2 linked regions of the Homo sapiens genome follow. The protein of the gene in region 2 interacts with the protein of the main gene of each other region in a pairwise test. Each region holds a gene or a part of one and is shown on either strand. Other genes may lie near its edges.

What was found. Proteins that work in one complex are often made in the same cells at the same time.
Region 1: the proteins of SPATS1 (region 2) and TOR1AIP1 interact in binary tests that used the Homo sapiens proteins (3 or more experiments, as listed by UniProt).

The regions. Positions count from the first base shown.
Region 1 is NC_000001.11:179,905,897-179,914,046, reverse strand, and holds part of TOR1AIP1 (torsin-1A-interacting protein 1), read right to left. Parts: intron 6,225-8,150; coding exon 6,183-6,224; intron 5,443-6,182; coding exon 5,374-5,442; intron 50-5,373; coding exon 1-49. UniProt on the Homo sapiens protein: Required for nuclear membrane integrity. Induces TOR1A and TOR1B ATPase activity and is required for their location on the nuclear membrane. Binds to A- and B-type lamins. Possible role in membrane attachment and assembly of the nuclear lamina.
Region 2 is NC_000006.12:44,345,141-44,353,290, reverse strand, and holds part of SPATS1 (spermatogenesis-associated serine-rich protein 1), read right to left. Parts: intron 566-8,150; coding exon 418-565; intron 1-417.

The sequences.
Region 1 (8,150 bases), on a different chromosome or scaffold from region 2:
GAGGTTGATGGTGACTGGTTTCCAAGCTCTGATTTCAGAATGCTGTCATCTAATGGTGAGAGTAATAAAATAAGACTATCAACTTATGCTTCATAATTTGAGTATTTATTTCTAGTAGACAAAGAAGATACAAATTCCACCAGGAAAAAAAGAAGACAGAGATCAGCCAGAAGCAGAAGAAAAAGTAGAATATCTGAGTGCCGATTAGACTGAGAGCTCCTTGAAACACATGACCTATTTCTTTCATAGCTTTTCACAGCATATGGTGGGGTCTAGTACAAAGCACACAATAATTAGTTTTGAGAGAAAGTTTGGAAGTATTTGACCCATTAAGTATCTAATGGGATTGGTGAAACTTCCGGGATAAAAAGGACAAAGAAACTAAGCACACCATAATAAAATGAAACATATTATACCATCTGAAAAACTGCCATATATTGAACTCTTGCCTGGTGAAGATGCTGTAAAGAGGGGGAAAATAAGGACAAAATGTGGATTACAGACTACTGAGCTGTCTGGATAAGGTGTTTTAATATAAAAATCTTAATCCTCACTATTTTCTACCTCAAACTGATTCAGTATTTCCTCTGGGGATTCTGACCATTTCAAATACTAGTAGTATTTTAAAATCACATTTAAAAACTTCTCATCATTTCTGTTAATAGACAAGTAATAAAGTAATTCTGTTTTAGGCTTGTGGTTAAACAATAGAGCTCAAAAATAATTTTCTCTCAACTCTGTCAAATTTCTACTTTCATCTAAATCTATTTAGAAAATAAATTAAGCCGGGCACAGTGGTTCATGCCTGTAATTCCGACAAATCAAGAGGCTGAGGTGACAGGACAGCTTGAGCACAGGAGTTTAAGGCCAGCCTGGGCAACATTGTGAGACCCCATCTCTAAAAAAAAAAAAAAAAATTAAAAACAAGAAAAGAAATTAAAAATGATCCTAACCCTTCCCTTTCCCTTCCATCTTTCTTAGCATACCAGCAGGTTTTAAAATCTAAGAGAGGAAATGGAAGGACAGGCTTCAGAAGGTGGAGAGGCTGAGTTATCTCATTTGTATGACCTATATTACCAGTATTGCCGTCTATCACTTGCCTGGAGTTTTATAACTTTTGTATATATAAATGAACTTCCTGGTGGATCTTCTTAGCGTTATATCAACAACTTTCATTTGAGAAACACTGGAATAACTGGAGGAATAATATTAGCCCTGCTAAGATTCAGAAATAGCCTTATTTTTGATCATATGACAAAAAACTCCATAATGATGTAGTAAGACAAAATGACAGCAACTGTAAGAGGAATACTGTTTTTCAATTACTAGTTTAGCTTAGGATATTTCATTATTTAGAAGCTTCTAAGTTAGGTTATCGAAGTTACAACTAAAATAACAATAAAAATACCTAACCACATGAAACCCAAATCCATCAGATAATGTTTATTTTGAATACTTCACTCCATGGTTGCAAAGATCAAATGAGATAATATATACAAAAATGCTGTGAAGTGCAATTCTATGATGTTAATGATGAAGGACAGCTAAATAATAATTATGTACCATATATAATATTTATATAATTCATATAACACAAACACATACACAGCAGGGTATATACTGCCAAGGCAGGACATTGTCCAAAGTATAACTGCTATCCTTTTTATCAACATTACTAGAGATGCTAACAACAATTCTAAAAAACATCTTTTTAAAAGAAAAAACTCAGCTGGGCGCAGTGGCTCAAGCCTGTAATCCCAACACTTTGGGAGGTCGAGGTGGGTGGATCACCTGAGGTCAGGAGTTTGAGACCAGCCTGGCCAACATGGTGAAACCCTGTCTCTACTAAAATACAAAAATTAGCTGGGTGTATTGGTGCACCACCAGCTACTTGGGAAGCTGAGGCATGAATGAGAATCGCTTGAACCCAGGAGGCAGAGGTTGCAGTGAGCTGAGATCACGCCACTGCACTCCAGCCTAGGCAACAGAGCAAGACCGTTTCAAAAAAAAGAAAAAAGAAAAAAGAAAAAAAAAAGAAAAAAAAGAAAAAAGAAAAAAAAAAAGAAAAAAAGAAAAAGAAAAAACTCAAGCTTTTCTAGTCTAAAGAGTATGGTGATAATCAATCACTCTACAACCATCAAGAGTAGAGGGCACAAATCCTCCATAGTTGCTATTGATTCTACAGAAAACATTAACAATAAATAAGCCCTGATAATTATGAGATTTTAGACTTTAAAAAATTGTGTTTACACATATAAGCTCATTACAATAATCTAGTTATAGGCACTACTGTCTCTAAAGGCAAGAAAATTGAGGTTCACAAAGGTTAAGTGATTTTACCAAGATTACTCAATTAGTAAGTGGAAGAGCTAGGACTGGAGCTCAAGAGCTTTAACTCCAAATTGTCTTCTTTTCTCTATCTAAATTTCTGAGACAGGTTCCAAAACATTTATATTAGTTCTCTGACCTCTCCATGCACATATATTCTTCTCTATAATCATTGTTTTATCACCTGGCAAACAGGAAAAAGTAAAGACAGTGGTTCCATCTTTCCTAAAAGGTTTGGATGCAGGCAGAAGCCTGAACTGGGACCTGTCTACAGGAAACTGTTGCTAACGTCGGGTGACAATGTTCCATGGGGTAGAATCTATAGCCTAAGGTTCTTGAACACTCAGCTCTAAAAATGACTTTTTTTTCCTCACCAAAGCGGGCAGAAATATATAGTTAAAGAATGAGAGATAAAATGTGGAATGCTAGGAAAACATTTTTTTAATATTCTTGAAGAGGAATCTATTATATAACAGTGTTTGAAAAATCACTGTAGTCTTCCACTTCCATTGAAAATATTTTCTTCTTGCTCATCGTTCTATCTTAAAGTCCTCATGTGGTTGAAAGTCTAAAAGATCCTATTACATGCACACTTCTGGTGTGTTACTGTTACATAACTCTGAAAGCTCAATGTGGTTATCTATATATGGTAGGTGGTTAGCAACCAATGTATAATTCTGTAAGCCATAATAAACATAGTAACTTAAGACAAAGTAGAAATGCAAACAGATAAAATACTAAAAATTAGCTATCAATTTAGCAACTAAAAAGATCTATTTCTGCATTTCTATTAGATGTTCAATATAATTATGTTTCCTTCTCTATTGCAGTGTCTTATTAGAGGAAAAAATTATGCAAAGATTTTCTGATAAGTATGTACTAACTTCACTTATCTGGAAGTCATTTATCTGATATTAATTACTCAGAATGTACAGTTAAGAACTAAGAAATGACACAAGATGCCTCTGAGCTTTTCACATTATATACACTAAAACTCATGCATTTTTACATCCAAGAGTATCTCTTGGGTCTTCAAATTTAATTTTAATGTTTGATCCTGGTTATAAACATAATTCTAATAAGCTGAATAATTAATGTTTGGTTTCCTAACTATAATAGGTCAGGAAGAGCAAATTATAAGAGGAAATGGTTTTCTAATAGCAGGCACATAATCACAGCAATAAGAAATGACAACCAACAGTAAGACAAGGGCAAAAAGTTATTTCGGTTCTAGACTGCTTAAGAACTCACTTACATGTGGGCTAAAAACGTCACTGCTGAGAAAAAATGAATTATGACCACTCCTACTTTACTGATGGAAAAGCAGAGCCACGCATGTCATTTGGTCCAATTACAGTTAATCATCCCATGAGCAAGAGATATAAGATGTGGATTTTTACATTACCTAAATAAAAGTAAGAGAATACCTGATGACCTCAAGACCTATTGTGGTTAGATGAGTAAAGTAGGGAGGTTAAAGGTCACTTAAGGCAGAGAATATGCATGGACTTTAAAAAAATATGGTCGAGATTTAACGTGGACGCATTTCCATAGAAATTATAGAAAGTGAGTTCAAAGTACGATGGTTTTATCACATCAATTTATAGTATTCCTTAAATTCTGTGACATTTAATCCATCCAAAACCTAAACATGAGGCTGGGTGTGGTGGCTCATGCCTGTAATCCCAACACTTTGGGAGGCTGAAGCAGGCGGATCACTTGAGGTCAGCAGTTCAAGACCAACCTGGCCAACATGGCGAAACCCCGTCTCTACTAAAAGTACAAATATTAGCTGGGCATGGTGGCGCATGCATGCAAGTCCCAGCTACTTAGGAGGCTAAGGCACAAGAATGACCTGAATGTGGGAGGCGGAGGCTGCAGTGAGCTGAGATTGTGCCACTGCACTCCAACCTGGGCGACAGAGGGAGACTTCATCTCAAAAAAAACCCAAAACAAAACAAAACACCCCCAAAAACCCAGAAAGGCTGGGCGCAGTGGCTCAAGCCTGTAATCCCAGCATTCAGGGAGGCCAAGGCAGGCAGATCATGAGGTCAGGAGTTCAAGACCAGCCTGACCAATATGGTGAAACCCTGTCTCTACTAAAAATATAAAAATTAGCCAGGCGTGTAACAATACAAAAATTAGCTGGGTGTGGTGGTACGCGCCTGTAGTCCTGGCTACTTGGGAGGCTGAGGCAGGAGAATTGCTTGAACCCGGGAGGCAGAGGTTGCAGTGAACTGAGGTTGCACCACTGTACTCCAGCCTGGGCAACACAGCAAGACTCCATCTCAAAAACAAAACAAAACAAAACAAAACAAAACAAAACAAAACAAAAAACAGAAAAAAAACCCTAAACATGAAAATATAACTTGTGCATTTCAGCCTTTATTATGTAAAATTATGAGTATACAAAGCTGTTCCAAAATCTGCTAAAAGCAAAAAATAAGTATTGTCAAAAGAGTAGAATTTCATTATTGTATACAGACTGTATTGCTGCTATAACTGACAGCTTGTTAAAATCCATCAATCTCTGGTTTTCTCTTTTTTTTTCTTTTTTTCAGATGGAGTCTCGCTCTGTCGCCCAGGCTGGAGTGCAGTGGTGCAATCTTGGCTCACTGCAAGCTCCGCCTCCTGGGTTCACACCATTCTCCTGCTTCAGCCTCCCGAGTAGCCTCCCGCCGCCACGCCCAGCTAATTTTTCTTTTTTAAATATTTTTAGTAGAGACGAGGTTTCACCGTGTTAGCCAGGATGGTCTCGATCTCCTGACCTCGTGATCCACCCACCTCGGCCTCCCAAAGTGCTGGGATTACAGGCGTGAGCCACCGCACCTGGCCAATCTCTGGTTTTCTCACGCCACTATTTACATTCTACACCCAGCCCATGTGCTGCCAGTCCAAGAAATTACTAAACTAGTAATCATAGCTGTACTTTATTAGTGAAATCACAAACAACCTAAATGTTTATCTGAAGAACTAAATATTTTTGTCAAGAAAAACATAGCAAATACACAAGATTATTTCAATAACAGAGATTTATCTACTTACTTTGCATCCTGGTCCTTATTCTTGCAGTTTGTGGGGCCCATTCCTGGGGAGTTTTTTGATATCCTGAGCCTGAAGCAAATACATATATCAAAAGATAATTTCCCATACTTTGAAAGTTTATACCATATTCCAGTGTTATAAAATTAATCTATCAGAAAGACAAAATAAAGTAGGGGAAGAAAACAATAAAAGCAATAGTTTTATAAGTAAAAGATAATTTCAAAGGATCGTATCAGTGAGGATGAACCACTTCCTACAGCAAAGCAGGTAGCAAATAAATATATTATCACATAATACAAATTACTTGTGGTAAAATAGCCCTGAACACATTTCCATATCACAGAGTAATTATTATAGGTAGTACCAATCCGTGGTGAATTAAAAAGGTAAAGAGGGGTAAAATGACTTAAAATCTTATTACAACTTTTGTTGGGAGAATAAGGCAAGGTTAGAATTGATTGACTGAGGCTGGGTGCGGTGGCTCACACCTGTAATTCCAGCACTTTGGGAGGCCGAGGCAGGTGGATCATGAGGTCAGGAGATCAAGACCATCCTGGCTAACACAGTGAAACACCGTCTCTACTAAAAATACAAAAAATTAGCCGGGCGTGGTGGCGGGCGCCTGTAGTCCCAGCTACTTGGGAGGCGGAGGCAGGAGAATCGCGTGAACCCAGGAGGTGGAGCTTGCAATGAGCCCAGATTGCACTCCAGCCTGGGCGACAGAGCAAGACATCGTCTCAAAAAAAAAAAAAAAAAAAAAGAGAAAAGAATTGATTGGCTGAAAAAAGAGCAGACAACCAACTACTTACTTAGCACTGAAGGTTGCTTATCATGAGCTGTGAAGTTTTGACCTGAAACAGAAAACAGGGATAAGGTCATAGAATACTTGAAAATAACAACAAAAAAGATGTTGCACAGACATTTTGCTTGTTTACTGTGGATACTAAAAACAAACAACAGACAAAAAACATTCTCTCATCAATTCCAAGCATATAAATATATAAAGTATATATATATAAAAAACATACATATACTATATATATACATATATATACATATATATATATATATATATATATAAAGTGTGTGTGTATTTCTTTCCCCCTCATTTCTAAACTTCAAAATGTTTAGGAATTGGGCAACAATAAGGAGTTAGTTTAGGATCAGTACCATCAAAATAAAAACTACATATAGTCATATATATCAAGTATAATTTTGTTTAATTCTTTTTTTTTTTTTTTTTTTGAGACAGGGTCTGACTCTGTCACCCAGGCTGGAATGCAGTGGCACAATCTCAGCTCACTGCAACCTCCGCTTCCCAGGTTCAAGATATTCTCCTGCCTCACCTTCCCAAGTACTTGGGATTACAGGTGTGCACCACCATGCCTGACCAAATTTTTTGTCTTTTTAGTAGAGACAGGGTTTCCCCATGTTGGCCAGGCTGGTCTCAAACTCCTGACCAGGGTTTCACCATGTTGGCCAGGCTGGTCTCAAATTCCTGACCTCAAATGCTCTGCCTGCCTCGCCCTCCCAAAGTGCTGGGATTACAGGCATGAGCCACCATGCCCAGCCAATTTTGCTTAATTCTTATGTGGTAGATGCTATTACTGTTCGTATTTTATAAATAAGGGAAAATCAGCTGGATGCGGTGGCTCATGCCTGTAATCCTAGCACTTTGGGAGGCCAAGGCAGGTGGATCATGAGGTCAGGAGATCGAGACCATCCTGGCTAACACGGTGAAACCCCGTCTCTACTAAATATATAAAAAATTAGCCAGGCGTGGTGGTGGGCGCCTGTAGTCCCAGCTACTCGGGAGGCTGAGGCAGAAGAAGGGCGTGAACCTGGGAGGCGGAGCTTGCAGTGAGCTGAGATCACACCACTGCACTCCTGCCTGGGCGACAGAGCGAGACTCTGTCTCAAAAAAAAAAAAGGGGGGGGGGGAACCAAAATTGGTAATTTTTCCAAAATTATATATCTAAAAGTAGTTGGGCTGAGATACAAATCCAGGCAGTCCATATCATATACCACATACCATACCATAAAGAAATGGTATGTACTATCTATGCAGATTTATGGACATTGCAAAGTAGCTATGAAGTAAAACATGCTACTTCAGGTTTTGAGGTGGTATTTAAGGATAACTGTAAAATGACACAATGGGATGACTAAAAAATGACATTACAATTATAACAAGGTAAATTTTCAAATCTGCCCTGAGAAAATGAGTTACTCTTTGATGATAAATACAAGTATCGATTTACATTTATTTATTTTCAACTTTTTCTGAATACAAACATGTGCTAGCTGTTTAAAAAAAGGGGCCATTCTAGAAATGCTTAATTTAAAAATTCATGAATATCTATCTGTTAAGTATCTACTATGTGCAAAACATTGAACATAGAAATATTATGGTAAATAAGACAGATATTCTCTCAGCTTTGTTTTCAGCCTATACTAAAAATATACTTTTAAAAAAGTGGATACATACGTTTTAATATTTTCATCAAATTCTAAGACATACTTTTTAAAAAATGCCCTTTGATCTACAGATATATCTTTTAATTAATGGTATGGCATAGTTTAACTGGATGGTTTTTCTTTCTCATTGATACATAAAATCAATAGTATCTTAAAGTCAATGAAATATATCTTGATCAACTTTTCATTAGGATACAATGAACTAACTCATTTTTCATTTCTAAATAGTATTTCTTTTTTTTTGAGATGGAGTCTTGCCCTGTCACCCAGGCTGGAGTGCAGTGGTGCAATCCCAGTTC
Region 2 (8,150 bases):
TACGATAATCATTTATTTGCTTTTCTTTAAGTTTTACCACCCATGTATGTATGTACATATCCCAAAAATATATAGTTTCACTTATTTTTGAACTTCGTAATAGCAAGCACTTACACAGAACTTGCTGTGTGCCAGGAAGTCTTCTAAGCTCTTTCCAGCTATTAACTCAATTAATCCTCACAACAATCCTATAAGCTATCATCAGCATTTTACAGATAAGAACACTGAAGCCCAGGGAGGTGAAGTAATTTGCTCAGATTCACACAGATACTAAGTGGCAGAACCGGGATTTGAACCCACACAGTCTAGCTCCAGAATCCATGCTCTTGCCAAGCATACCATGCTACCTCTCAGACTATTGGCTTCTTGGTCAGAATCTCCCCAACCGTGACAGCTCTGCACCAGACCCTTACTTACTCTACGTAAGCAGACACTCTGGGGAGGCCAGGAGGCTCACTGACACTTGGGCCTGTTTCCACAGAAGATGAGGAACTGACACTTTTGCCAGAGGGTGTTGTGTTGGCAAAACATCCCTTAGATTCCAGAAAATCACTGCAATTAGCACCTGTAACACAGAGATATCACCATTTAATTACATTATTGAAAATACATTCCACCCTATTTTGTTTCCTAGATTATAAATAAATTTTTAAAACAGCTAACATTTATTGAACATTTACTGTGCACTGAGGATTATGTCAACACCTTTACACATATTATTCCATTTATCCCTATAACAACCCACAGGCTTAGGTATTCCTTATTATCCCCATTTTATGGTTGAGAAAACTGAGGCTGAGAAGGCTAAGAAACTTGCCTATGATTGCATAAAAAGTAAACATCTAGGCCCGGCGTGGTGGCTCATGCCTGTAATCTCAGCACTTTGGGAGGCCAAGGTGGGTGGATCAGATAAGATCCACCCTGACTTGAGGTCAGGAGTTCGAGACCAACCTGGCCAACATGGTGAAACCCCGTCTCTACAAAAAACAAAAACTAGCTGGTCATGGTGGCACACTCTTGTAATCCCAGCTATTTGGGAGGCTGAGGTGGGAGGCTTGCTTGAACCCAGGAGGCAGAGGTTGCAGTGAGCCGAGATCACATGACTGCACTCCAGCCTGGGCAACAGAGACTCTGTCTCAGAAAAACAAAAAAGAAAAAAGAAAACATCTAGGCCCATATTTGATTACAGCTCTTGTGACACTAAAGCCTGAGATTCTAAGCCCTGTACTAGACTGCTTGCCCCTACATATAGTTCACCTACTCTGAACTAAGTGGAAGACCTAGGATCTGAAGTGAGCTATATAGCACTGTACATTGTATTAAGCATCTCAATATAATTTTCCAAAGGATTTGTTTATAAAAAGACTGATGAATATAATGCTGATCACAACCCAAAGAATGCCCTCAGAAACTTCTGTGGGTTCCCCTCACAGTTCTTATTCATCTTAGTAGAATCCATAACAGTGCCTGGCACAAAGCAGGTGCTCAATAAATGTTTGAGTGAATAAATGAAAAAGAATTATAACTCCCCAACCACCCACAGTTACAAGTAAGGGAGTCCTGAAAACCAGTGAGTGTCAGACATAGAAGAATATCCATTATCTTCACTCTGCTATACTATTAATACTTCATGAAAGCCAATTTGTTCTGTTATCATCTCATACAGTTATGTACCTCATCCAGCCACAAAAATAAAAAGTCCGATGAAAAGATTATGCATATTTCTTTATGCATAATTTCGTAGAGCACTAAAGCTCAATAGATGGCAATGTAACCTCTGGTTATGAGAAAATTGTAAGAAATAAGAGTCAAACTCTGATTCTTGAGTACATTTTTAGACTGACTACTATTCCACCTACACAGTATCATGCTTCACACATATAGAGTCATCTTTTGGTATCGACGGGGGATTGGTTCCAGGACCCCCGCAATACAAAAATTACAAAAATCCAAAGATGCTCAAATCGTTTATATGAAACAGTGTAGTATTCGAATATAACATATGCACATCCTCCTGTATGCTGTACTGTAAATCATCTCTAGATTACTTGTAATACCTAATACAATGCAAATGCTATGTAAATAGTTGTTATATACTTATTTGTATTATTTTTGTTGTTATATTGTTGTTTTCTTTTCTTTTTTCTTTTTTTTTTTTTTTTTTTTTTGACACAGAGTCTCACTCTGTCACCCAGGCTGGAGTTCAGTGGTGTGATCTCAGCTCACTGCCACCTCCGCCTCTGGGTTCAGGTGATTCTCCTGCCTCAGCCTCATGAGTAGCTGGTATTACAGGCACTCGCCACCATGCCTGGCTAATTTTTGTATTTTTAGTAGAGACAAGGTTTCACCATGTTGGCCAGGCTGGTCTCAAACTCCTGGCCTCAAGCAATCCACCTGCCTCAGCCTCCTAAAGTGTTGGGATTACAGGTGTAAGCCACGACACCCAGACTTGTTGTTTCCTTTTTGAATATTTACTATGGGCAGTTGGTCGAATCTGCCAATGCAGAACCCGTTGATATGACTGTATAGTGTAAACTATGCAAATTCCCACCATCTATCAGCAGGACTGCTACTCAGAGAATTTTTTATTCATTTCCTCTCAAATTCATATCACAAGTGAATAATACCTTTTCCATTCTTATCAAGTCCCGATCTATCACCAAACCTTTCACTCCTAAGAGGACTTTGCCTGTTACTCTACAAAGCTTAAAGTTCAGCTGAGCTACTCCCTCCCTTCAAAATCCTCCCACTCTGGGGCTTCTCAGGACATGGCGCAAGGCCTATCTGCATCAGAATTACCCAGGAAGCCTGTTAAAAATACAGATTCTCAAATTCCATCGCAGACCTATTGAATTAGAATCTCTCCAAGTGAGGCCTGGGAACCTGCATTTTAAATAAGCCCCCACCCTCACCCCTGCTCTTCATTTAGGCTCACGTTTGGCAGTAATCTCCTTCTTGAAGTCTAGTTCCATCACTGCACTGTATTTTATCCAGTTCCACTTCCAGATTCCCAACTGCACAGAACTTCCTGAATTTGCCCAGTCACGAGAATCCCCTTGGGGTACTTGTTCAATATGCAGGCCCCAGGGCTCTGACTCAGACCTACAGTCTGGGAGCCAGGATATTTAAGAAGCACCTCAGGTGATTCTTAGGGTCAGCCAAGTGTGGGAAGTGCTGCTCTGGAATATGCCCTAGAGCCTAGAGCAGCCCCCAGCACAGTGAGGTCCAACTGGTTGCTTGAGGTGTAACTGGGATGGAGTCAAGCCCAGGGGAGGTGGCAGGCAAGCAGCAGGTGAGGATGAGGAGACGGGTCCCCAGTAACCAAAGGAAGAACCACCCATATACCAAGCCACAAAACAAGTATCAACAATACATAGACCACACTCTCTGACCACAATGCAATACAATTAGAAATCAATAATAAAAAGACAGCCAAAAAGTATCCATAAGCTTGGAAACTCAAACCACACTTCTAAATAATTCACATACAAGAAGAAATTGTAATGGAAATCATGAGTTGCTTAATGATCAATGAACATTGAGTACTATATATCAAAACTTGTGGGATTCAACTAAAGCAGTAATTAGAAATCTGGGGCCTTGAATGCATATGCTGTATTTCACTGAATATAAGGCACCATCAATTGTAATAGCATCGTTATTTTATGTATCACAAAGAACAAAGGCTGCCAATTAAAGTATGATACATGCTTTTATCACTTAGAATTTTTATTTTATACTTATTGATGCATTCTTTTAATTTATTTATAGATTTTAATCACATATCACTCATGCACATATATAAAGAAGGAAAATATAAGCACAATAGACTGGTTAAGGCATTCCTAAATCTTATGCACATTCAGAAATCTGACTACTAAACCACTTTCAACTCAATCACTATTGTCCACACTTTCCACCTAATACTGACCTAATATTTCAATAAAAATGTGAGTTGAGTGATGCAGCATTTCTTTCTTTTTTTTTTTTTTTTTTTTTTTTGAGCCAGAGTCGCCCAGGCTGGAGTGCAATGGCATAATCTCGGCTCACTGCAACCTCCAACTCCAGGGTTCAAGCAATTCTCCTGCCTCAGCCTCCCGAGTAGCTGGGATTACAGGTGCATGCCACCACACCCAGCTTATTTATTTATTCATTTCTTGGAGACAGAGTCTCGCTCTGTCCCCCCGGCTGGAGTGCAGTAGTGCAATCTCAGCTCACTGCAACCTCCGCCTCTTGGGTTCAAGCGATTCTCCTGTCTCAGCCTCCCGAGTAGCTGGGATTACAGGTGCCCACCATCATGCCTGGCTAATTTTTGTATTTTTAGTAGAGACGGGGTTTCACCATGTTGGCCAAGCTGGTCTCAAACGCCACACCTCAGGTCACCCACCCATCTCAGCCTCCCAAAGTGCTGGGATTACAGGCGCAGTGGCGCCAGGACCAATTTTTGTATTTTTAGTAGAGATGAGGTTTCAACATATTGGCCAGGCTGGTCTCTTAGCCAGGCTGGTCTCGAACTCCTGACCTCATGATCTGCCTGCCTTGGCCTCCCAAAGTGCTGGTATTACAGGCGTGAGCCACCGCGCAAAAGTGCTTCTCTACTGTCTCTGGAGTTTTTTCCAAGCTATGAACACACGTTCTACATGCTTCAGTGCTCATACAGCAAAAATTATTACAACTACATCCTACCTGCTGCTGGGCCCACAGACCTGGTAACATCCAGTCCCTACTTCAAAGATGCAAACTGTCTATCCAAGAATTGATGGATTATAGTGTTCAAAATCAAAAATTCCAAAATGAATGAGCCAAGTTGTCAATTTAAGAAATAAGAAAAAAAAAAGAGTAACCCCTCTCCCCCCGAAAAGATTTTAAGGAATAAAATCATAAAAGCAGAAATGAATGAAATAAAGATTATCAGAACTATGGCTTCATGCAAAAGCTGATAATGCAGATAAACAAGGTTCAAGAAAAAATTTTAAACACAAATAAATAATATTAGAGCCTGGACTGTAATCCCAGCACTTTGGGAGGCCAAGGCAGGTGGATCACCTGAGGTCAGGAGTTCAAGACTGCCTGGCCCAACATGGTGAAACTCCGTCTCTACCAAAAATACAAAAATCAGCCGGGCATGGTGGTGCACGCCTGTAATCCCCGTTACTCAGGAGGCTGAGGCAGGAGAATCGCTTGATCCCAGGAGGCGGGGGTTACAGTGACCTGAGATCATGCCACACTGCACTACAGCCTGAGCAACAGAGTGAGACTCCATCCCAAAAAAAAAACAAAAATAATAATAATAATAGAAATGAAACAAGGCCATAATTATAAATAAAATAGAGATAAATTTACAGATAAAGAAATTAAGCTCCAGAAATGTCAAATAACTTGTTCAGGGTTACATAGCCATGGAGTATAATTTATAAAATGTAGTCTAATGTTCAAATAATCAAGACAGTACTGACAAAAACCCTAACAGACAAATCAATAGAACAAAATAGTAAACATAAATAGAATAAAATTGTATATGAAAACAAGTGGCATTTTATCTTGGTGAAGAAAGGATGGGTTATTCAAAAAATATTGCTGGAACAACTAATTAACCATTTGGAATAAAAATAAAATTAATCCTTTCTTATCCCAAACTGGAAAATCCAGATGACTCACAGATTTGAATGTAAAAATTGAAATTAAAGATGTACCCGAAAAAAGTAAGTGAAAGTTTATATAATCTTAGAGTGAAGAAGTTATTGCCAAGAAGATACCAAATACAGGCAAAATAAAGGAAAAGAGGCATAGATTTGAATATGCCTCTTTAAATATAAACTTAAAACTTTCATAGCAAACTATAAACTGGGGGAAAATCTATAACAACATGATAGAAAGAAAAAAGAGTGAGTAGTCATGACAAATTATGAGCTTTTTTTTTATACTTTAAGTTCTGAGGTACATGTGTAAAACGTACAGGTTTGTTACATAGTTATACACATGCCACGGTAGTTTGCTGCACCCATCAACCCGTCGTCTACATTAGGTATTTCTCCTAATGCTATCCTTCTCCCCTCCCCCAACCCCACGACAGGCCCCAGTGTGTGATATTCCCCTCCCTGTGTCCATGTGTTCTCATTGTTCAACTCCCACTTATAAGTAAGAACATGCAGTGTTTGGTTTTCCATTTTTGCGTTAGTTTGGTGAGAATGAGGGTTTCCAGCTTCATCTATGTCCCTGCAAAGGACATGAACTCATCCTTTTTTATGGCTGCATAGTATTCCATGGTGTATATGTGCCACGTTTTCTCTATCCAGTCTATCATTGATGGACATTTGGGTTGGTTCCAAGTCTTTGCTATGTGAACAGTGCCGCAATAAACATACGTGTACATGTGTCTTTACAGTAGAATGATTTATAATCCTTTGGGTACATACCCAGTAATGGGATTGCTGGGTCAAATGGTATTTCTAGTTCTAGATCCTTGAGGAATTGCCACACTGTCTTCCACAATGGTTGAACTAATTTACACTCCTTGAGCTTTTATAAATTTATAAGATGAAAATAAATATCCAAAAAGAAAAAAAAAGGGCAAAAGATGTGATCAGGTAACTTATTTTTAAAAACAGGCTGGACAAGGTGGCTTATGCCTGCAATCTCAGCACTTCGGGAGGCTGCGGCAGGTAGACTGCTTGAAGCTAGGAGTTCAAGACCAGCCTAGGCAACATATGGAGACCTGGTCTCTACAAAAAACTAAAAAGTTAGCTGGGCGTGGTGTTGCACACCTGTGGTCCCAGCTACTTGAGAGGCTGACATGAGGACTGCTTGAGCTGGAGAGGTCGAGTCTGCAGTGAGCCCTGATCATACCACTGCACTCCAACCTGGGTGACAGAGTGAGACCCCATCTCAGAATAAGATAAAATAAAATAACACATACATATAGCCAATATGTATTTGGGGGAAATTTCATCCATCCTAATAATTGGGTTTGGGGGAGTGGGTGGTTATTTTGTGGGTTTGTTTTTTTTTTTGAGACAGGGTCTTGTTCTGTCACCCAGGCTGGAGTGATCTCGGTTCACTGCAACCTCTGCCCCTAGGACTCAAGTGATGCTCCCACCCCAGCCTCCCAAGTAGCTGGGACCATGGGCACACACCAGCATGTCCAGCTATTTTTTTGTTGTTGTTGTATTTTTTGTAGAGATGGGGTCTCACCATGTTGCCCAGGCTGCTCTCAAACTCCTGAGCTCAAGTGATCCACCCACCTCAAAAGTGCTGGGATTACAGGCATGAGACACTGTACGTGGCCCCATCCAAATAATTGAAGAACCGAATTTAAAATGAGATGCCATTATTTGTTATCCGTTTGCAAACACCCAGGTGTTTGGCACAGCTTGGAGGAATGGCATTCCTATCATTGCTGGTGGGAATGTCCCCATCTTACTGAAGAGCAATTTGGCCATATGTGACTTCCGAAGCCTATGAGAAGTGCATGTCATTTGACTCAATAGTTCTACATCTAGAAATGTATCTATGAAAAAGCCATGAAATGCATGTTTGGAGATGTAGAATGGATTCACATATGTGAATGAAATGAAATCAAGGCCAAAGATGTCCTCTATGTCAATAATTGCATGTGAGTTCTGAGGTATTTACAGTAAGATTTACTTATGGTAATTTTTGGCCATAGGTTTTAACAGTGGCTGCCTTTCATAGCATGTAAACATTTTAGTTGTATATTGCCACTATAGGACTTGAGAGTTCACCCAAGCAAGAATTGGTTGGCTCTATGGATGGTATCAGAGAGGGTCCTTTCCCAAGCTTTTTGTTTGTGTTAGGAACAAAATGTAAATGTACTGCATTTCCCTAAGCAGCGAGCAGTGAAACACACCTAAAACTTTAGCACACTTCCTTGCTTGCTTGAAAAGTTTTGTGGCAGCAGCACTCTAGAAAGTGGCCTGTGGCCACTATAATGGGGAAAGCTTGTCTGATGGACAAGGATGGGAAGAGCAATCTCTTGCTAAACTGGCAAACAGCACACTCTCTAGATCAAGCTGACTACGGCATCTTCCTGAGAGTAACTCAACCTCAAACTTGAGCTGGAGACACTTAAACATGTTCTCAAGATGCCTCCCCGCCCCTCCCCTGGTAAAAGAAGATTAGCTGGAAGAGAA